Linked DNA regions of Homo sapiens. The protein of the gene in region 4 interacts with the protein of the main gene of each other region in a pairwise test. Each region holds a gene or a part of one and is shown on either strand. Other genes may lie near its edges.

What was found.
Region 1: the proteins of LIMS1 (region 4) and ZMYM4 interact in a two-hybrid assay, tested with the Homo sapiens proteins (one large-scale study listed by BioGRID and IntAct).
Region 2: the proteins of LIMS1 (region 4) and ZNF160 interact in a two-hybrid assay, tested with the Homo sapiens proteins (one large-scale study listed by BioGRID and IntAct).
Region 3: the proteins of LIMS1 (region 4) and PLCE1 interact in a two-hybrid assay, tested with the Homo sapiens proteins (one large-scale study listed by BioGRID and IntAct).

The regions. Positions count from the first base shown.
Region 1 is NC_000001.11:35,385,835-35,391,413, forward strand, and holds part of ZMYM4 (zinc finger MYM-type protein 4), read left to right. Parts: intron 1-239; coding exon 240-355; intron 356-1,168; coding exon 1,169-1,444; intron 1,445-1,619; coding exon 1,620-1,770; intron 1,771-3,075; coding exon 3,076-3,248; intron 3,249-4,113; coding exon 4,114-4,264; intron 4,265-5,579. UniProt on the Homo sapiens protein: Plays a role in the regulation of cell morphology and cytoskeletal organization.
Region 2 is NC_000019.10:53,075,923-53,081,501, forward strand, and holds part of ZNF160 (zinc finger protein 160), read right to left. Parts: intron 1-5,579. UniProt on the Homo sapiens protein: May be involved in transcriptional regulation.
Region 3 is NC_000010.11:94,027,096-94,032,674, forward strand, and holds part of PLCE1 (1-phosphatidylinositol 4,5-bisphosphate phosphodiesterase epsilon-1), read left to right. Parts: intron 1-3,587; 5' UTR 3,588-3,951; coding exon 3,952-5,157; intron 5,158-5,579. UniProt on the Homo sapiens protein: The production of the second messenger molecules diacylglycerol (DAG) and inositol 1,4,5-trisphosphate (IP3) is mediated by activated phosphatidylinositol-specific phospholipase C enzymes.
Region 4 is NC_000002.12:108,536,349-108,541,927, forward strand, and holds part of LIMS1 (LIM and senescent cell antigen-like-containing domain protein 1), read left to right. Parts: intron 1-5,579. UniProt on the Homo sapiens protein: Within the IPP (ILK-PINCH-PARVIN) complex, binds to F-actin, promoting F-actin bundling, a process required to generate force for actin cytoskeleton reorganization and subsequent dynamic cell adhesion events such as cell spreading and migration.

The DNA.
Region 1 (5,579 bases), on a different chromosome or scaffold from region 4:
ATTTCTTTGAAGTTTCATTTATCTGGTAGTTTCAGGGTAGACTTTGACCAATTTAAATTGGAAAGAAACATTTTCAGTATTATGTTAGTTTTTGTCTATATGTGACATGATTTAGTTTCAGTTCCTACAACTTACCCTGGCTCTTAAATTTTCTTATATTGTATAGTATTATTTAATTTCTCATACTTTTGTGTACATTTGTACATATTACTCATTGGTTTTTATTTTGATTTGCTAAGGTGTACAAGTTCAGTGTAACAGTTGTAAAACCTCAGCAATTCCTCAGTATCACCTAGCCATGTCAGATGGAAGTATACGCAACTTCTGCAGCTACAGCTGTGTGGTAGCTTTCCAGGTATGGCTTCAGGAACCTTCCTCTTCTTCAGTCAGTGAGTCACCTACTGTATGAGTCTGTTCTTGCACTCCTCTAAAGAAATACCCTAGACTGGGTAATTTATAAAGAAAGAGGTTTAATTGGCTCACAGTTCCACAGGCTGTACAGGTAGCATGGCTGGAGAGGCCTCAGGAAACTTTCAATTATGGCGGAAGGCGAAGGGGAAGCCGGCACGTCTTACATGATGGGCTCAAGAGGAAGAGAGAGAAGCGGGAGGTGCTACACTTTTAAACAACCAGATAGTGAGAACTCACTATCACCAGAACAGCAGGGGAGAAATCCACCCCCATGATCCAGTCACTTCCTGCCAGGCTCCTCCCCCAACATTGGGGATTACCGACTGGACATGAGATTTGGGCAGGGACACGAATTCAAACCTATCACCTACTATAGTAATGCACATTTATTAGGTGTTTGCTAGGGCCTGGGTTGTATAAGTTTCTATATCATTCCTATTAAACTTGGATTTGTAGTTCATTCTGTATTTGGAATTTAATTTAACTGCCTTCTATAAAATTGAATGGTACTTTTATCACCCATATTATCTATTGGGAGGATATTATTTTTGAGGAAGATTATTAGTTAAGTTATTTTATTTTTTCATCATAAATGAGACTCCCCCCATTCCGTAATAAGCTGCTCAGAGGCAGGAACATTGCCTGTTAACAGATGTACCTTACATGCCTAGAACGGTGCTTGGCATATGTAGGCACACAATACTTCTTTGTTTTAACAAAGATTAAATTGATACTTTTTGTTGTTTTGTTTTTCCAGAATTTATTCAACAAACCAACTGGAATGAATTCTTCAGTAGTGCCCTTGTCTCAGGGCCAAGTAATTGTAAGCATCCCCACAGGTTCCACAGTGTCAGCCGGAGGAGGTAGCACATCTGCTGTTTCTCCCACCTCCATCAGTAGCTCTGCTGCAGCTGGTCTCCAGCGTCTCGCTGCCCAGTCCCAGCATGTTGGGTTTGCACGAAGTGTTGTGAAACTCAAATGTCAACACTGTAACCGTCTTTTTGCCACAAAACCAGAACTTCTTGACTATAAGGTAAAGTATAGCATGTTCATGATAAGATTTTGAGTATACGTGGGTCTATTTGTAAAATTATTTTTAACTTTGCATCTCTCAAAATCATACCATTTGTTTTGAAAGTAAGGGAGATAAGGAGTTCCATAAGACAAACCAAATGTTTAATTAGTACTTAATGATTATTTCTTTGCAGGGCAAAATGTTTCAGTTCTGTGGCAAGAATTGTTCTGATGAATATAAGAAAATAAATAATGTAATGGCAATGTGTGAATATTGTAAAATTGAGAAAATTGTAAAGGAGACTGTTCGGTTCTCAGGTGCTGACAAGTCATTCTGTAGTGAAGGTAAAGACAGAAGATTATCTTACCTACTGAGCATGTTGGTTGTTTTAAAGCAGTTGATGATGATTTAAGCTTTCACTGTCTAAGTTAATCTGTTTTATTGTTTATGTATAACGTAAATGCCTTTTCGATTCATTTACACTTAGTTCATTCTTTTTTGATCTAGTTTTCTTATATTATGTAGCTGTTAAAATGAAGTGAAAGATTTGCAAAGTATAATGCAGAAGAAGATGATGTGAAAAACATTTAACATCCTTAGGTTCCCCATTATTAGGTTGATCGGGACCTCAAAGAGCTTCTAGTTCGTGTACTTATTTCTAAATGGGATGCCTTAAATTATGGTAACATTCTAAGTTTATACTTTTATTGTCTTAAACAGCCATTATATTTCTGAATATAAATGGCTTGAATATGCAAATTAATATGTGGAAGATTGTTTTCCTTAGATAACTCTTCTATATGTTTATAATGTTTTATTTTACTCTAAAGCTGTATTAGCCTTCTAGAGCAAGGGCTTTCAAACCTTTTGATAACACCAAAGAAGAAATACATTTACACTGTGACCCAGTATATTTTCACATACCTAAATAAAAGTTTTTTTTGTTTTTGTTTTTGTTTTTTGAGACAGAGTCTTGCTTTGTCACCCAGGCTGGAATGCCATGGAGCGATCTTGGCTCACTGCAACCTCTGCCTCCTGGGTTCAAGCGATTCTCCTGCCTCAACCTCCCGAGTAGCTGGGACTACAGGCACCCGCCACCACACCTGGCTAATTTTTGTATTTTTAGTAGAGACAGGGCTTCACCATGTTGGCCAGGCTGGTCTCCAACTCCTGACCTCAGGTGATCCACCCACTTTGGCCTCCCAGAGTGCTGGGATTACAGGTGTGAGCCACTACGCCCAGCCCCAAAAGTTTCATGAAATAAAATCGATGCAGTTTAATATTTTCTCTTCTGTGCTATCCTGTCTTATATCATTTAAAACAAAAACAAAAACAAAGCAAAACAAAAACTAGTATAGATACTCTAAAAAATCAAGATACTCTGTGAACTGGTCAGGACCCAAGTGTGAAAACTTTGTCCTAGACCACTTATTTTTCTTTTTTTTGTTTTTGTTTTTATTTGACATGGGGTCTTGCCATGTTGCCCAGGCTGGTCTCAAACTCCTGGGCTCAAGCACTCCTCCCGCCAGCCTCCCAAAGTGTTGGGATTACAGGTGTGAGCCACTGCACCGGGCCTGTCCTAGGCCATTTAAAGTTGCAGAAAACTAATACTTCTACCTAATGTTAATTTTATCTTTCCTGATTTTTAGGTTGCAAATTGCTTTATAAACATGACTTGGCAAAACGCTGGGGAAATCACTGTAAAATGTGCAGTTATTGTTTACAGACATCTCCCAAATTGGTACAGAATAATTTAGGAGGGAAAGTGGAAGAGTTCTGTTGTGAAGAATGCATGTCCAAATATACAGTTTTGTTCTATCAGGTAAATAGAATTCACATTCCTGGGTTTTTCATTCTAGGGCATAAATTATTCCCTTTTAAAATTTCATGTCACATAAAGGACAATTTAATTATTTAAAACTTTTAAGTATTAAATGTTTTATGCCTTCTAGCAATTAATATAAGATTTAGAAAGACTTTAATGTTATTGAAGTTTTCTTTTGTTTTTAATTTCCTGTAGGAGACATATCAGTCTTAAGACATTAAAATATTTAAACTTATAATTTTATTCACTTATTATTTAAATAAAGTGAATTTGTCTTCTGAAGTCTGAGGAAGATAGACCTTATTTTTATTTCACTTTGTTTTTTAATTGCTATAGAGTGAAGTCTGTATGTTACATGTGTTTTTTAAAAAAAATTAGTATAAAATCAGCTGGGCGCGGTGGCTCACGCCTGTAATCCCAGCACTTTGGGAGGCCGAGGCGGGTGGATCATGAGGTTAGGAGATCGAGACCATCCTGGCTAACATGGTGAAACCCCGTCTCTACTAAAAATACAAAAAAATTAGCTGGGTGTGGTGGCGGGCGCCTGTAGTCCCAGCTACCTGGGAGGCTGAGGCAGGAGAATTGCATGAACCCAGGAGGTGGAGCTTGCAGTGAGCTGAGATCACGCCACTGCACTCCAGCCTGGGCGATAGAGCAAGGCTCTGTCTCAAAAAAAAAAAAAAATATATATATATATGTGTGTGTGTGTGTGTGTGTGTGTGTATAATCATTGATAAAGACAAACTAATTTTTTGATCTAAATTCTAAGTTAATTTCGTCACTTGTTATGTGTGTCTTATTTTTATTTTGTCAGACCACAGATAATTTGTTTCTTACTCCTTGACTACCTTCTTCTTTTTAGATGGCCAAATGTGATGCTTGTAAGCGACAGGGTAAACTCAGTGAGTCCTTGAAATGGCGAGGGGAAATGAAACATTTCTGTAACCTGCTTTGTATCTTGATGTTCTGTAATCAGCAAAGTGTATGTGACCCGCCTTCACAAAATAATGCAGGTAAAATTAACCTTAGGTACTGAATGGAGTCTTTGGTCAATACTAGGAACTACTGTTCTTTTACAGATCAGGAACTGTGTAAACAGTTGTCATTAATTTCATGAAACCTCAGTTTCCTTGTATTCTGTATCAATAACATTTAGCTTTTTTTGTTGAACACCTTATTTCACTGTCGTCCGTGTGAAGAGACCACCAAACAGGCTTTGTGTGAGCAACAAGGCTGTTTATTTCACCTGGGTGCAGGCGGTCTGAGTCTGAAAAGAGTCAGTGAAGGGAGATGGGGTGGGGCCGTTTTATAAGATTTGGGTAGGTAAAGGAAAAAGGGGGGTTGTTCTCTGGCGAGCAGGAGTGGGGGTCACAAAGTGCTCAGTGGGGGAGCTTTTTGAGCCAGGATGAGCCAGGAAAAGGAATTTCACAAGGTAATGTCATCAGTTAAGGCAGGAACAGGCCATTTTCACTTCTTTTGTGTTGGAATGTCATCAGTTAAGGCAGGAACCGGCCATCTGGATGTGTACCTGCAGGTCAGAGGGGATATGATGGCTTAGCTTGGGCTCAGAGGCCTGACACCTTAGATTAAAGCTGAGTAAAAATGAGTTTTTGATTAAATAGATTTCTTTGAGAATATTGAATCAAATAAACTCTGTAAGAACTTAAATTTATGGGAAAGGATAACAGTTAATGGTTTGTAATTGAGTATAATTGGCTTCCTTAAAAAATCCTTTGAGACTACTTATAACAAAAGACATAAAGTCAAAATCACATGGCCTTTTAAATATACCATGTGCAGGCCAGATGTGATGGTTCATGCCTGTAATCCCACCGCCTTTGGAATGCTGAGGTGGGAGGACGGCTTGAGGCCAGGAGTTCAGGGGTGGAGTGAGCGGTGACCACAGCACAGCAATCCCAGCTGGATGATATAGTGAGACCCTGCCTCTAAAAAATTAAAATAAAATAAAACTATATGTCGTGGGCGTGACTAGTTGGGGCCAGTGTCACGGGCTGTAAAGGAATTTACCAAGACAGTCATAGGTAAAGGCAGATTTATTGGAGAAAGTGTGAAAATATGTTGCAAGGTTGCAGTGAGCAGCACAGCAGAGAAGGGGAAGTCTGCAAAGACGCAGCGGCTTGAGGGACGTTTTACATGGTCCTGCTGGAGGGGACTGCTTGCAGAATGTAGCCGTGCTCCTGGGGCTACCTGTAGGAGGTCATCTCTCAGAGTAATTACTCATTGTTCTCCCCCACCTGGGCCCCTTCCTCTTTGTTGCTTACTTACCTTGTCAGGACTTACTTATCTTATCAGGACTACACACTATGT
Region 2 (5,579 bases), on a different chromosome or scaffold from region 4:
AGCTGACCCTATATCCAGATAGACAGTGTCAGAATGGAATCAAATATGAGAACACCCATTTGGTGTCTGTTGCAGAATTGTTTATTTGATGTGTAGAGGAAAACCCAATACATCCAAAATCACAGAAGTATTTGTATTATGGAAGCAAAGCAGGAGAAACTGAGTCTGTTTTTCCCATATTTTCCTACGCATTAAGGACTTTTGAGCAAGTTATGTCTCCCTAATTCTGTCTTATTATTCTTTTACCTAAGAGGTTGTGATATCCTCTATATCAGTGTCGATTTCTCAGTTTTATGGGCAATAAGTATACAAATAAAAAACAGAAAACAAGGTTATCTCTATGGAAGTGTTAGACATTATGTTTGACATACTGAGTGATATTCAATAACTACATGAACTAAATAAGCACAACTGGTATCTTAAGAAATGATAATGCGGCCGGGCGTGGCGGCTCATGCCTGTAATCCAGCACTTTGAAAGGCCGAGGCGGGTGGATTACTTGAGGTCAGGAGTTCAAGACCAGCCTGGCCAACATGGTGAAACCTGTCTCTACTAAAAATACAAAAATTAGCCAGGCGTGGTGGCAGGCGCCTGTAATCCAAGCTACTCGGGAGGCTAAGGCAGGAGAATCACTTAAACCCAGGAGGTAGAAGTTGCGGTGAGCCGAGATCACGCCACTGCACTCCAGCCTGGGTGACAGAGTGAGACTCCATCTCAAAAAAAGAAAACTGTACTGAAGTGATGCTGTCTATAAGACAGAGGAGTAGGAAGTCCCAAGCACTACCCATGGAGACACAGATTTAATAACACTACATGGACCAAATTGTCTTTGTGGGAAATCTGGCAACCACATCAGAGGTCAGAACTCTTTTGAAACACCTGCTCACCTGAGGCCCTATCCTGCCATGATGTAGTATCACTGTGAGAAAACCACACTTCCATTTTCTCCTGGGGAGAGAAAGTATGGGAATATCCATCTAACATTCTGACTTTTTTTTTCTCTTTTTTCCTGTAACACAACACAAGGCTCATAACGTTCTGACTTTTCAGGGCACTGCTAAGGGACAAGTTTCTGTCTTGCCTGAATATAAACACTGAAGTAACAGGACCCCAGGTAAGGAAGCTACTGAGAACAAAGCCATCCGTCATAAACCAGAGCTTGTAGTAACGTACGCAGACATTAGGTGGCGGTGCAGCCCCCAGCTTACTAGGACACCAGCGAGGCTGCGGAACAGCCGGCAGACAACAGAGGCATTCCTGCATACAAACTGGCACAAGCTCTTTAGTTAAGCTACAATCAAAAAGTCCACGGAGGACGCATCCTTAGAAAAGGCTTGAGGGATCTCCAGAGCCTCTAGTCAGGATGACTGTAGCATGTCTTCCCTGAAGGAAGCCAGAATCAAAAACTACAAGTGGCTGATTAGTGAAATGCTGTGGTCCCAACAGGAGATAACGAGATATCAAAAGAAGCCAGGCACGGTGGCTCACACCTGTAATCCCAGCACTTTGGGAGCCGAGGCGGGTGGATCACGAGGTCAGGAGTTCGAGACCAGCCTGGCCAAAATGGTGAAATCCCGTTTCTACAAAAAATACAAAAATTAGCCGGGCGTGGTGGCGGATGCCTGCAATCCCAGCTACTCAGGAGGCTGAGACAGAGAATCGCTTGAACCCGGGAGGTGGAGGTTGCAGTGAGCTGGGATCCCACCACTGCACTCCAGCCTGGGTGACAGAGTGAGACTCCATCTCAAAAAAAAAAAAAAAAAAGCAAAAGAAAAAAAGAAACATGGACCATATGCAGCAACATATTAAATCACCACAAAGTAATACTAAAGAAGCAGATATATATATATATACATTATCAAAGAAATAACAATAAGACTCCTAAAGTTGCTCAGTGTATTAAGACAGTACTCATAAACAACTTCAGAAAATCAGAAAAACAATAAATATGAGATTATCAACAAAGAGATAAAAATTATGAAGAAGAAACAGAAATTCTAGAGCTGAAAAACATAACTGAATTAAAAAACACACTAGAGCCAGGCGTGATGGCTCACGCCTGTAATCCCAGCACTTTGGGAGGCTAAGGCGGGCGGATCACGAGGTCAGAAGTTCGAGACCAGCCTGGCCAACATGATGAAACCTCATCTCTACAAAAATACAAAAACTTAGCTGGGCATGGTGGTGGGCACCTGTAATCCCAACTACTCGGGAGGCTGAGGCAGAAGAATCGCTTGGACCCAGGAGATGGAGGTTGCAATGAGCTGAGATCGCACCACTGCACTCCAGCCTGGGAAACAAGAGTTGCCACCTCAGGGGAAAAAAAAAATACACAAAATTAGCTGGGTGTAGTGGCATGAGCCTGTAGTCCCAGCTACTCAGGAGGCTGAGGTAGGAGGATCATTTGAGCCTAGGAGGTTGAAGGTACAGTAAGCTATGATCATGCCACCATATTCCAGCCTGTGCTACAAAGTGAGACCCCATCTCTAAAAAAAATAAATAAAAGGAGAAAATGAAATAGAAGAATGATGAAGATAGCCAGGCATGGTGATGTGTGCCTGTAATCCCAGCTACTCAGGAGGCTGAGGCAGAAGAATCAGCTGAACTCAGGAGGCAGAGGTTGCAGTGAGCCAAGATCACACCACTGCACTCCAGCTTTGGGTGACAGAGTGAGACTGCATGTCAAAAAAGAAAAGAAAAGAAAAGAAAAATGAACAAATGAACATAGCCTAAGGGAAGTGTGGAACACCATCATGTGGTCAACTCCAATGTCAAAGTAAGAAGAAGGAGTATAAGAGAACTTAACCTACTGTGTCTGAGTGAGAAAGAAAAAATCTGTATACTCTCATAAGTAGTAAGGCAACTGGAGCAGCAATCAAAAAAAAAAAAAATCCTAGAACAAAGACCAGGAACACATGCATAACTCATAAGCACTGTACAATTCTACTCAATGTTGAATGAAGAATTAACAATTCTCAAACAATTCCAAATAAGTGAAGAAGAGGAAACAACAAAAAACAATTGTATGATACCACCCTTAGTCTGACACCACCCAAGCAAATATATGACAAGGAAACAAAAGTGTAAGATATTATTCGTGATAAACACTGATGCAAAAGCCCTCAACAAAATACTAGGAAACCAAATTGTAAAGACATTAACAGGATTATAGTCCATGACCAAGTGGACTACACACTGGGAAGACAAGAGTGGTTCAACAGAAGAAAGTCAATGTAATACACCACACTGACATGGTGAAGGACCAAAACCACATGCTCATCTCAATCGGTGCAAAAAAAAGTTATTTGACAAAATTCAACATAGTTCATGATAAAAATGCTCAACAATTCGGGCACGGTGGCTCACGCCTGTAATCTCAGCACTTTGGGAGGCCAAGGCAGGTGGATCACCTGAGGTCAGGAGTTCAAGACCAGCCTGACCAACATGGAGAAACCCCGTCTCTACTAAATACAAAAATTTAGCCAGGCATGGTTGCACATGCCTGTAATCCCGGCTACTTGGATGGCTGAGGCAGGAGAATCTCTTGAACCCGAGAGGCGGAGGTTGCAGTGAGACTGTGCCACTGCACTGCGCTCCAGCCTGAGCAACAAGAGCAAAACTCCATCTAAAAAAAAAAAAAAAAAAAAAAAATAGGCTCAACAAATCAAGGAAACTTCAGAATATTAGATTTGGCAAAGATTTCTTGGCTATGACACCAAAAGGAAACACAATAGCAGCAAAAAAAAAAAAAAAGGGACTGCATCCAACCGAAAAACTTTTGTGCATCAACAGATGCTACCAAGAGTAAAACAGTATGCCTGTGACAAGTCCTAGCCAGAGCAATCAGGCGAGAGAAACAGAAGGCATTCAAACAGAAAGAGGGCTGCATGCAGTAGTTTGCACCTGTAATCACATCACTGTGGGAGGCCAAGGTGAGAGGGTAGTTTGAGTCCAGGAGTTCGAGACCAACATGGGCAACATAGTGAGACTCTGTCTCTATTTTTTAGCAACGACAACAAAAACAACAAACGAAAAGGAAAAGGAGGAAGTCAAATTATCTCTCTGAGAAGGATATGATTCTGTATCTAAAAAACCCTAAAGATTCCACTAAAAGACTCCTAGACCTGATAAATGACTTCAGCAAAGTCTCAGGATTTAAAATCAAGGTACAAAAATCAGCAGTACTTTTTTTTTTTTTTTTGAGATGGAGTTTCGCTCTTGTTGCCCAGGCTGGAGTGCGATCTTGGCTCACCACAACCTCTGCCTCCCCGGTTCAAGCAATTCTCCTGCCTCAGCCTTCCTAAGTAGCTGGGATTACAGGCATGCACCACCACGCCCGGCTAATTTTGTATTTTTAATAGAGACTGGGTTTCTCCATGTTGGTCAGGCTGGTCTTGAACTCCCGACCTCAGGTGATCCGCCTGCCTTGGCCTCCCAAAGTGCTGGGATTACAGGCGTGAGCCACTGTGCCCGGCCCAGTCAGCAGTACTCTTAAACGCCAATAATGTTCAAGCTGAGAAACACATCATCAAGAATGCAATCCTATTAAAAATAGCCACACCCCCCAAAAAATGACTAGGAGTATGTCTAACCAAGGTTGTGAACTATCTCTATGAGGAGAACTACAAAATACCAGTGAAAGAAATCAGACAACACGAACAAATGGAAAAGCATTTCATGCTCATGGGTTGAAAGAATCAATATCAATGAAATGTCCAAACTGCCCAAAGCAATCTATAGATTCAACAGTATTCCTATTAAATGACCAACATCACTTTTCACAGAATTAGAAAAAACTTCTAAAATGTATATGAAAGCAAAAAAGAGCTCAAAGAGCCAAGACAATCCTAAGCAAAAGGAATAAAGCTGGATGCATCACATTACCTGACTTCAAACCATATTGCAAGGCTACAGTAAACAAAACAGCATGGTACTGGTATAAAAACAGACACATATACCAATGGAATAGAACAGAGACCCCTAAAATAAAGGCCCACACCTCCAACCAACTGATCTTCAAGAAAATCAACAAAAATAAACAATGAGGAAAGGATACCCTATTCAATAAGTGGTGCTGGGAAAACTGGCTAAACATATGCAGAAGAATGAAACTGGATCCCTATCTCTCACCATATAAAAAAATTAACTTGAGATGGATTAAATACTTAATATAAGACCTCCAACTATAAAAATCTTAAAAGCAAACCTAGGAAATACTCTTCTAAGACTTTGGCCTAAGCAAGGAATTTATGAAGACCTCATAATATATGCAGCAAAATAAATGCAGCAAATAAAAGGAATTTATGAAGACCTCATAATAAATGCAGCAAAATAAAAAATAGACAAGTGGAACTTAATTAAAGAGCTTGTACACAGAAAAACAAACTATCAACAGAGTAAACAATCTACAGAATGGGAGAAAATACTTGCAAACTACGCATCTGACGAATAACTAATATCCAGAATCTATAAGAAACATAAGCAAATCAACAAGAAGAAGACAAATCACCCCACTAAAAAGTGGGAAAATAGCATAAACAGACACTTCTCAAAAGAAGTCGTACTATTGGCCAACAAGC
Region 3 (5,579 bases), on a different chromosome or scaffold from region 4:
TCTTCCCTGAAAACTCCACCCCACCTGTTTATCTAACTACTTCCTACTTATCTTTTGAAACTCAACTGAGTTGTCTTCTTGTGAAGGAAACCCTCCCTGGAAATCACTCCCACCCCATCAGCACTGTCTGCTTTAGATGTTCTTCCTCTGTGTTAATGCAGATTATAGCTCTATTTACACTGTACTTTGGTGACTTATCAGATGGTAAGGAAATCCAGGACAAGATCCCTGCCTTATTTAATTGTGTACTCAACAAATATTTGCTGAATAAAGGAATGGTCTGAGATTGAACCAAGTCTAGTGCTCTATAAAGTCTGCTCCCTGTAATGTTGCTCATCCATGATTCATGATAGTAAGCTGGAGGCAAAGCAAAGACCATTGCTTCGATGTCTGTGTATATCCTCAGCCTTCCAGAGACAAAGCCACATATAAGATAAGCTTCTTGGCTGGGCTTGGTGGCTCATGCCTGTAATTCCAGCACTTCGGGAAGCCAAGGTGGGCGGATCACAAGGTCAGGAGATCGAGACCATCCTGGCTAACATGGTGAAACCCCGTCTCCACTAAAAATACAAAAAATTAACTGGGCGTGGTGGCACATGCCTGTAGTCCCAGCTACTCAGGAGGCTGAGGCAGGAGAATCGCTTGAATCCATGAAGTGGAGGTTGTAGTGAGCCAAGATCATGCCACTGCACTCCAGCCTGGCGACAGAGTGAGACTCCATCTCAAAATAAATAAATAAATAAATAAATAAATAAGATAAAAAATAAAAAATGAAAGGCTTCTCCTAGCAGCCATGGGTCTTCATAGCTAGAAGACATCAGAAACCCAAACCCATAGGGCTTCAGACTAGATGGAAGATAAAACAGCATAGTCTATGGCTAAGAGAAGAGATTCTGTAGTCAGTCTTCTTGGATTTGAATCCTGTCTCAATCATTTTCCAGTGGAGGGATCTTTGGCAATTCACTTAGCTTTTCTTTGCTTTGGTTTCTACTCTTTCAAATGTGGATAGCAGAAATTATTTGTATTAGTTATCTATCACTGTGTAGCATATTAGCCCAAAATGTAGTGGCTCAAAGCAATAAACATTTATCATCTCACAGTTTCTGTGGTCAGGAATTTGGGACGAGGCTTATCTGTCTGAGGGTCTGTCATGTGGTTGCAGTCAAGATATAGGTTGCAGATACAATCATCTAAAGCCTTGACTATAGCTGGAGGATCCGCTTCCAAGATGGCGCACTCACATGGGTGTTGTCAAGAGTCCTCCATACTTTCCACAGGGATCTCTTCTTACAATATGGCAGCAGATTACCCCCAGAGCATGCGAGAGAGGAGTAGCAAGGAGGAAGCTCCAATGACTTTCATGACTGATTCTCAGCAGTCATGTACTGTTCCTTCTACCACATTCCATACATTAGAGGGAAGCCACTAAGTATAACCCACATTCAAGGGGCGGGGAATTAGGCTCCACCTTGTGAAGAGAGGAGTATCAAAGAATTTGTGGACATATTTTAAAACCATCACACTATCTTGTAGTATTGAGTGAGAATTACACAAGATAATAATTGCAAAGTGGCCGGGCACAGTGGCTCACACCTGTAATTCCAGCAATTTGGGAGGCTAAGATGGGAGGATCGCTTGAGCCCAGAAATTCAAGACCAGACTGGGCAACATGGTGAATCCCTGTCTTTACAAAAAATACAAAAATTAGCCAAGCGCAGTGCTATAGTCTCAGCTACTTGGGAGGCTGAGGTGGGAGGATCACTTGAACCCAGGCTGGTTTTAAAATATGTCCACAAATTCTTTGATATTTCTCCTTTCAAAAGGTGGACCCTAATTCCCCTCCCCTTGAATGTGGGTTATACTTAGTAATTCCTTCTAACATATAGAATATGATAGAAGGAACAGTATGTGACTGCTGAATCCAGGAGGCAGAGGTTGCAGCAAGCAGTGATTGTGCCATTGCACTTCAGCCTGGTAACAGAATGGGACTCTGTCTCAAAATTATGATGATGATGATGATATTTATAATTATAATAACAACAATAATTACAAAGTCCTTAGAACAGGACCTAAGCATCACCAAAAATGTTTTCCCCTTCTCCTCCTTTGAATTGCTTACCTCATGGGTAAGAAAGGACATATTAGCTGTCAATCTGAAGGCTTTGGCCTGAAAAATCTCTTTAAAAAATAGAGCAGATATTTGAATTCAAGTTAGTGCCATATGCCACTAAAATTATCTATATAATCTTGACCTGAAAAGTTGTTCATGGTGTGCTTTGAATTTTTAAAAGCAGGTACAGAACAGAATGACCAACATTATCTGGTATTTGCATAGTTATACACATATATCTCTATGTATGTTGATGCATAGGGAGTGTTCTGGAAGGAGGTTTCTGAAAGTATTGATAATAGTTATTGCTGTGTGATAGGATTTGTTAGGATGTTGAGCTAGGACACTGCTGCTCTGTGTGGGCTGGTTTATTCCCTGCAAAGAATATGATTTCTAGGGTTTCCAGTGATTTTTCAGAGTAGTTGTAGAGACATGAATATACTGGGAGCCTCTCACCCTTGAGGCTGTGTTTGTGCTTGAGGGAACACATATAGAAGGGATTAAGGGGTAGTTGATGACTCTTTGGGAAAAGAGGGTACGGGAGAAGCAAGGGGAAGAAAGACATCTATTTGTCAAAGAGCAAAGGCAAGGCAAAGCTGGTGTTGGCAGCAGAGCGTGACTGCTGATTAGTTTTCTCGGGAGCAACTGCTTCTCCTGGAAGGGAATGATATGCTCATCATGGGCACCTTCTAGTCCTATAGTGCCTTGTATATCCTTTATAATTGTGTTTCCACATTGGATAGAAATTTTTTTGATTCCCTCTCTCTACTAACAGAGTTACAAGCAGTGCAGGCTTGTTAGTGATAAGTTATTTCAGCTTTATATGCCTGGAAAAGTTTTTACTTAATTTTTATTTGCAGAAGACATTTTTGCTGGGTATAGAATTTGAAGTTGACAGTAGTTTTTCTTTCAGTACTTTAAAGATTTGTCCACTCTCTTCTGGATTGCATTGTTTCTGATTAAAAGTCTGCTGTCATTCTTATCTTTGTGCCTCTTTGCTTAATGTGCCTTATTTCTCTAGCTTCCTTGGCCTCCCTGAAGTCTTAACTATTTCTCTTCTACTCAGGTAAATTGTTGGATTTTATCTGAGTTTCCCTTCCTTGCCTTGTTGCCTGGAAACTTTCTAAGCAGTAAGCTAGGGCATTTATAGGGCTCACTTCTTTTTTTTTTCTTCTTTCAGACATCAATGTCTGTGTTGCTCGTTGTTCAATATCTGAAAACCACTGGGTTTTTTTCTGATTTTCTTTTTAGTTATTTAAGGTGGATGAATAAATCTTGCCCTTGTTACTCCATTTTGGCTGGAAGCAGAAGTTCTGAAACATTAAATAAAAAAAAAATACTAAAAACATAAAAACCAACTTCTGATTGCAAAAAAAAACCTTTTTTCTCAAAATTGTCTGTATCTTAGGATTGTGAGATCATTTTTTTAAAAACTCACTGAGTGCCACAGTGTTTGACATTATCTCTTTTCTTACAGGAAACAGGAATCATTCAAACTGGATTTTAAAATCATTGCAAATCAGTGATGGATCAGAAGTTGCAGAGTGCAATCCCGAGTAAAAGTCTTCAAAAAATTTTGCTTCAGGTAACAGAGGAAGGAAAATTGATCTACCACCTTAAAACCCTGATCTAGAAAAAATATATATTCATGATAGGAAGTTATAACTAAGAAAATTTATTTGCCTCTTAATGCTCCTGAATGAAAGGAATTATCCCTTTGTTCTTTGGGAGGACTTGTGTATCTGAGATTGTTGTAATAATCAGTCATTTTATTAAAACCTTGACATGATCACCAGGGAGGAAAAATAGAGCAATAGTCAAAACCTGTGTGTTAGTCCAAGATGACTTCTGAAGAAATGACAGCTTCTGTTCTCATACCTGTGACTCAGAGAAAAGTGGTTTCTGCCCAGTCGGCTGCAGATGAAAGTAGTGAAAAGGTCTCAGACATCAATATTTCAAAAGCACATACTGTCAGACGAAGTGGGGAGACTTCTCATACCATCTCACAACTGAACAAACTTAAAGAAGAACCTTCTGGAAGCAACTTGCCAAAGATTCTCTCAATAGCGAGGGAGAAAATAGTGAGTGATGAGAACAGTAATGAAAAATGTTGGGAGAAAATCATGCCAGATTCTGCGAAAAACCTTAACATTAACTGCAACAACATATTGAGAAACCATCAGCATGGCCTTCCTCAGAGACAATTTTATGAAATGTACAACTCTGTTGCTGAGGAAGACTTGTGTTTAGAAACTGGAATTCCTTCTCCACTGGAAAGAAAGGTGTTCCCTGGAATTCAACTGGAACTAGACAGACCTTCCATGGGCATTAGTCCTTTAGGAAATCAGTCAGTGATCATAGAGACAGGCAGAGCACACCCTGACAGCAGAAGGGCAGTATTTCATTTTCATTATGAAGTTGACAGAAGAATGTCAGACACTTTCTGTACCCTATCAGAAAACTTAATTTTAGACGATTGTGGAAATTGTGTACCACTACCTGGGGGTGAGGAGAAGCAAAAGAAAAACTATGTGGCATATACCTGTAAACTGATGGAATTGGCCAAAAATTGTGATAATAAGAATGAGCAGCTGCAGTGTGATCATTGTGACACCTTGAATGATAAATACTTTTGCTTTGAAGGCTCTTGTGAGAAGGTTGACATGGTATATTCAGGTGATAGCTTTTGTAGGAAAGACTTTACTGACAGTCAAGCTGCCAAGACCTTTTTGAGCCATTTTGAGGACTTCCCTGATAATTGTGATGATGTAGAAGAAGACGCTTTTAAAAGCAAAAAGGAGCGATCCACTTTGTTAGTCAGGAGATTCTGTAAAAATGACAGAGAAGTTAAGAAATCTGTGTATACTGGAACAAGAGCAATTGTGAGAACTCTGCCTTCTGGCCACATTGGGCTGACTGCATGGAGTTACATAGATCAGAAGAGAAATGGTCCCTTACTGCCTTGTGGGAGAGTAATGGAACCCCCGTCAACAGTGGAGATAAGGCAAGATGGGAGCCAACGTCTGTCAGAAGCCCAGTGGTATCCTGTAAGCATTTGAGTTTCTTTTTACCATTTCTTTAAACTTGCTTTTTTTTTCAAAAAAAAGTCCAAATTTCCATTGTCATAATTGATGAGAAATTTTAAGATCTGTCAAATTATGATTCTTAGGTTAAGCATTTGTGGTTATTGAAAACAGATACTCCAATTGATAGCTATCAAGATTGAGTTGATACTGCAACAACATAAAAGTGTGTCAGAAAATAATGTTATTGGGAGTGGAGGAATTAGGGAGATTTCCTGGTAGTGGAAAAATGGCTCCATTTGTTGCTTATCTGTTTGTGTTCTTTTGAGATAAATGCCTGGGTCCTGTTCTATGGTGTAGTTCATTATTGTTTTTAGGTCTCCAGACCTAACAGAACTTAATTCTGTTTTTTTTCATTTTCCAACTAATGGCCCCACTTCCTTCCC
Region 4 (5,579 bases):
GCCATCATTTTAATTTCTGTCTATGACTTTGACTACTGCTGGTACCTCATATCTCATGTAAGTGGAATCATACGCTATTTGTTGTGCATGTCATAGTTTGTTCCTTTTTGTTGCTCAGTAGTGCTCCATGGTATGGATGTACAGCAGTTTAACTGTTCACATGTTTGAAGGACATTCAGGCTGTTAGTTTTGGGCTATTAAGAAAGCTACTACGAACAAATAGACAGGTGTTTGTTGTTGTTTTTGAGACAGTGTCTTGCTTAGTCACCCAGACTGGAGTGGAATGCAGTAGCATGATCATGACTTACTGCACCCTAGACCTCCCAGGCTGAAGCAATCCTTCCACCTCAGTCCCCCAAGTAGCTGGGACTACAGACACACGCCACCATGCCTGGATAATTTTTGTATTTTTTTGGTAGAAACAGGGTTTCGCCATGTTGTCCAGGCTAGTCTGGGGGTCCCAAACTCCTGGGTTCCAGCAGTCCACCCACCTCAGCCTCCCAAAGTGCTGGAATTTTAGAGCCACTGTGCTCAGCCTGTCTAAGTTTTATGTGAATGTAACTTTTCCTTTTCTGGGATAAATGTCCAAGAGTGTGCAATTGGCAGGTTGTACAGAAATCGTATGTTTAGTTTTTTGAGAAACTGACAGTTTTTTTCCAGCATGACTGTACCATTTCACTTAAAAAGTGAAATTGACATTATTTTCCTGTGAGTACATAAAGGTAAAGAATTCAGGGACAGTACCACGGCCCTCTTTAGTGCTAAGCGGCCAGCAGTTGTACCGACTGTTGTTTTTGCACTATCTGTGTGTCAACACAGTCCACAATGCTACAGTGACTTCTTAGGAATATCTTAGTATGATGAAAATAGTTTTGATCTCTCGGATCCCTTAGAAAGGTCTTGGAGACCCTCAGGAGTTCAAGGCCATACTTTAAGAACCACTGTTAAAGACATAATCCTAAATGATGAAGGATATGCAGGTATTGGGGATATTTAAAAAGGAACAAATACAAGGTTTCTCTTAAAATTGCTCTTGAATGCTTGTGGTAGTGTGTGCCTTGTAGTTTTGGCTAGTTTTAGTAGGATGTAATAACTAAGACTTGGACCACCATGGAAGAAGCAACTTTCTGCCTTTCAGGATTTTCCCTGATAAGAAAATGGCCAGTGCCATTATGAAGAGGGACAATGCCATGGGCCTAAGTGTATTCACACTTTTCAGTGCTCTGTGCCTGTTTGTATGGTGAGAAAATCGAACTGTTGATTTTTAAGAAAGCTAAGGAAAGTTTGGTGGTACAAAAGATCATTTCAGTTCTGGTGGTTCCGGTTTTTGCAGGCTTAGAGAAAACTGTCCATCAGGATTGTGCTGTCTTGATTTTATTTGATCATTCCCACCCTTTTCCCTTTGCTGTAGCCCCTTGACCTGTCTCCTGGGCAGTTCTTTCCTTTGCTAAATGTGAGTACAACAAGTAGGCTTTCCTTTCCTCCTAGAGAGGGGGACCTTGGAGCCCCTCCACTGGGTCAGAGAAACTTCCATAGCTGCAGCAGATCAGTAACAGGAGAGCCGAGCTTTACTCTGAAAGCCTCTATTTTCAATAATGTTGTGTTTGCTCTTTGGATAATCATTTAAATAAATAAACCTCAGTATAGGTCATGTTCTTACCTAGGTTTGCACTTAAATAGAAGGAAAAACATCTCAAACCATTTTGTTAGTTTTATAGTTCTCGTAACTACACTTTAAGCTGTGGTTTTCCACCCACAGGGATGTCATCTACATTATATGCTGGACTGTTGCCACATTGTCTTCCAAAAACTTTAATTTTAAGACACTTGAGAAGCAGGAGCTGCACTACCTGTTGCCATATACTGTGCATTCTTCAGCAACAGAGGTTTCCTTTTCACTCTTTCTGATATAATCTCATCTCTTTTATTTGATCATATCACACATTTCCACCCTGGAGCTTACTGCAGGAATGAGTAAGGGAGTCATTTTCCTGCATCTTTTTTCACGTTGGAGCACGTTTTGGAGCTTGATGAGTCTTCAGTGACATTTAACAGTGGGGCGGGACAGCTGCAGATAAAGCAAGTGCTGAAGAGTGCATTCTGTGAGAGGTAGGAAGAAAGGTGAAGGCAGTAGTTCAGCTGCTGGGAGTATGTGCTTGGCAGTGGGAGGCACGGGACTCAGCATCAGCACACCAGGAATCCAGGGCTTTCAGGATGTCTGAGTAGCAGGCAAGGTAAAGCAAGATAACAGACAACATGCATTTACAAGTAATGTTTACACATACTTTCCCTTTCTACAAAAATGGAATCATAGTCATACTATTCTGCAATTGCTTTTTTTAGTATTAAAAAAGTTACGGGAAAACATGCAAAACAAAATTTACTATTTTAACCATTTTTGAGTGTACAGTTCTGTGGCATTATGTACATTGACGTTGCTGTGCAACCATCACTACCCTTCCTTCCAAGAACTTTTTCATCTTCCCAAACTGAAACTCTGTGACCAGTAAATACCAACTCCCCATTTCTTGCAATTGCTTTTTTACTTCAACAAGCTGTCTTAGAGCGGTGTATCTGGGTTTACCTTATGTTTTTTAACCTTAGTTTTAATGGCTGCATAGTATTTCACAGTGTACATGTGATATGATTTGTACATCCAGTCCTTGACTAGTGGTTATTTGGGTTCTATTTTTTAATTATCACAAACACTTTGAACATCTCTGCCAGAGTGTTTTTTGTTTTGTTTTGTTTTTGAGACAAGGTCTCACTCTGTCACCCAGGCTGGAGTAAAGTGGTGCAATCATGGCTCACTGCAGCCTCAACCTCCTGGGGTCAGGTGATCCTTTCACCTTAGACTTCTGAGTAGCTGGGACAACAGGTACATGCCACTATGCCCGGCTAATATTTTGTATTTTTTGTAGTGACAGGGTTTCCCCATCTTGCCCAGCCTAGTGTTGAATTCCTGGCCTCAAGCGATCCGCCCTTCTCGGCCTCTCAAAGTTCTGGGATTACAGGCGCGAGCCACTGCACCCAGCTACCAGAGTTTTCATAGCTTTCTGAGTGTAGAGTTAGTATGTGCATGAGTGTTTGGGTCCATGTTCTAGTCCTAGTTCTGTCCCTTCATGGCTCTTTGACTTTGGCCCTGTCAGCGTCTTTAAGCCTCAGATTCTTAATTTATAAAATAATCCCACCTGTCTCAGAGGTTGTTGTGATAACTAAATATGAAGGCAAATGCAAATATTTCTGAAAGGATACCGATGAAATTTTTAGTGATTGTTGCTTCTGGAGAGGGAGTCTAGGCACCTGAGAATCCAGGATGAGAGGGACATTTTTTGTTGTATAGCTTTTTGTACTGTTTTGATTTTTAAAATCGTGTATGTTTTCATTTTTAAACCATTTAACACCATGCCAGGAACATAGTAGATGCTCAATGAAGTCATCATTTCCCATCATCCTGGTTCTTTTCCTCCGGACTTATACTGCTGCTAATGGCACCTAACATGGTTGCTTTTGTTTCTTCCTGTCCTTCCCTCCCTATAGCCACCTTCTTGCTGAGTTCTTACCTTCGAATTTTCTCTTGAATCCATCGTTTTCTTTTTTCACTCCTTTCTTACTGATTTCCTTTTCACCCTGGTTCTGAAAATCTTTCAAATGAACATAAGATGATAGTATTAAGACTGGGAAAGACTTGAGAGAATGCAGAGCCAGTGTCCTGTGGACTGTAAACTTATTCCAACTGGCTTGAAAAAAAAAATCTATGCACATACTAAGTGTTTGAAGTGGAACAAATGATGTTTTGTGAATGTTTCTAATTTTCATTTAACAGGTGATAAAGTACAGATTCCTTTTTTTTTTTTTTTTTTTTTTTGAGACGGAGTCTTGCTCTGTTGCCCAGGCTGGAGTGCAGTGGCATGATCTCGGCTCACTGCAGGCTCCGCCTCCCGGGTTCAAGTCATTCTCCTGCCTCAGCTTCCCAAGTAGCTAGGACTACAGGCGCCTGCCACAACACCTGGCTAATTTTTTGTATTTTTAGTAAAGACGGAGTTTCACCGTGTTAGCCAGGATGGTCTCTACCTCCTGACCTTGTGATCTGCCCGCCTCGGCCTCCCAAAGTGCTGGGATTACAGACTTGAGCCACCGCGCCTGGCTGATAAAGTACAGATTCTTTTAAAGGGTTTGTGGAATTCGTGGTAGTATTTATATAGTGCATGCTTTATCTGTTAACGTGCTAAAAAGACAATCATGGTGACATGAAGATCTAAGAAAATTTATTTAACATTTAAAAAGTGGGTTTATATGTGAAAAAGTTGGAACCTACTGAACTCATGCACTTTAGTGGGTCCCCTGCATTAGCCCTTTATTTAAATACACTGCTTCTTTATTTTACAGGACAGGATTTGCCTAGAAGGTAAAATAGTTTATTCAAGGCCGAAAGTCAGTTAACAGCAGGGTTAGGAATACAGCCCAAGATGTGGTTGTATTGTGGGGTCTCCTCTGCTATATTACGTTGGTTTGCTCTGTTACTTTATTCACATTGCATTGTTACAGTTTGTTGTGTGTATATATTTTATCTTTTTGTCTACAGTATAGAGTAAATACCTTGAGGACCAAGACCTATAGCTGAGCCCATTAACATAGTACATTTGGAAATGTCTGAATGAATTATGGATATTGGCCCAGAATTGTTCTATTACAGGTGTCCTGGATGTCAGTCTCTTTCAAGTGATTCCTTTTGAAGAACACTTCAGAAGTGTTGTTGAAGACCTGGTATTCCTAGCCACATGTGCTGGTGCTTGCAACTTTTTCCTCCCCAGAGAGATCCCTTCCTATTGACGGGCTTCCTTACCAATGCATCAGCTGAGTGACAAATGTTACCAACTACTTAAACAGATATGTTTATTTCTCATTGGTAAATGTAGCTGTTGTTTTGTTTTTGTTTGCTTACTTTTAAAGCTGGGCACATTGCTGTCCATTTTAAAATTTGCCTTGTTAATACAGTGAGGAAGGGAGGGAGAATGGACATTGGGTAGGCAGTTGCAGCTTTTGCCACAGCTAGCTGTTTCTCCTTCTCAGTGCAGTAGATTCAACAGGATTTGTTTTTCTGTGCAGGTACAGTGCAGGTGCACCTGACTGATCTGTCATCCATGTTGGTTTCAGATTTTTCTAAAGAACTACTTTGGTCACATGTTTTCAAAATATTGAGAAGCTGCTTATTGCCTGTCAAGTAGGTCCAAACTCCAGCGCCTGGAATTTAAGGCTGTTTGTGATCTGGCCCAACCCATCTTCATAGCCTTGTCACACACTGTTTCCTTAGCCTTTGTCTCTCTAACCCACTGCCTTTTTCTGAAAATGATGATTTCCTGCCTCAGTGCTGTTCATGCCCTTCTCTGGGCCTGGAAAATCATCATCTTTTGTGTTTTCTTGGCAGCTGGAACAAAATTGCCGCTTCTCTCATAAAATAACGAATTCCTGGAGCATTAATTTAGCCCCCGCTGTGTAGTAGGGAATTAGGGATTCAGAGCTTTTTCTGTTTTCCCAAAGCATTTTGAATTCTTTTTTGGTAATTACCAATTTCTGTT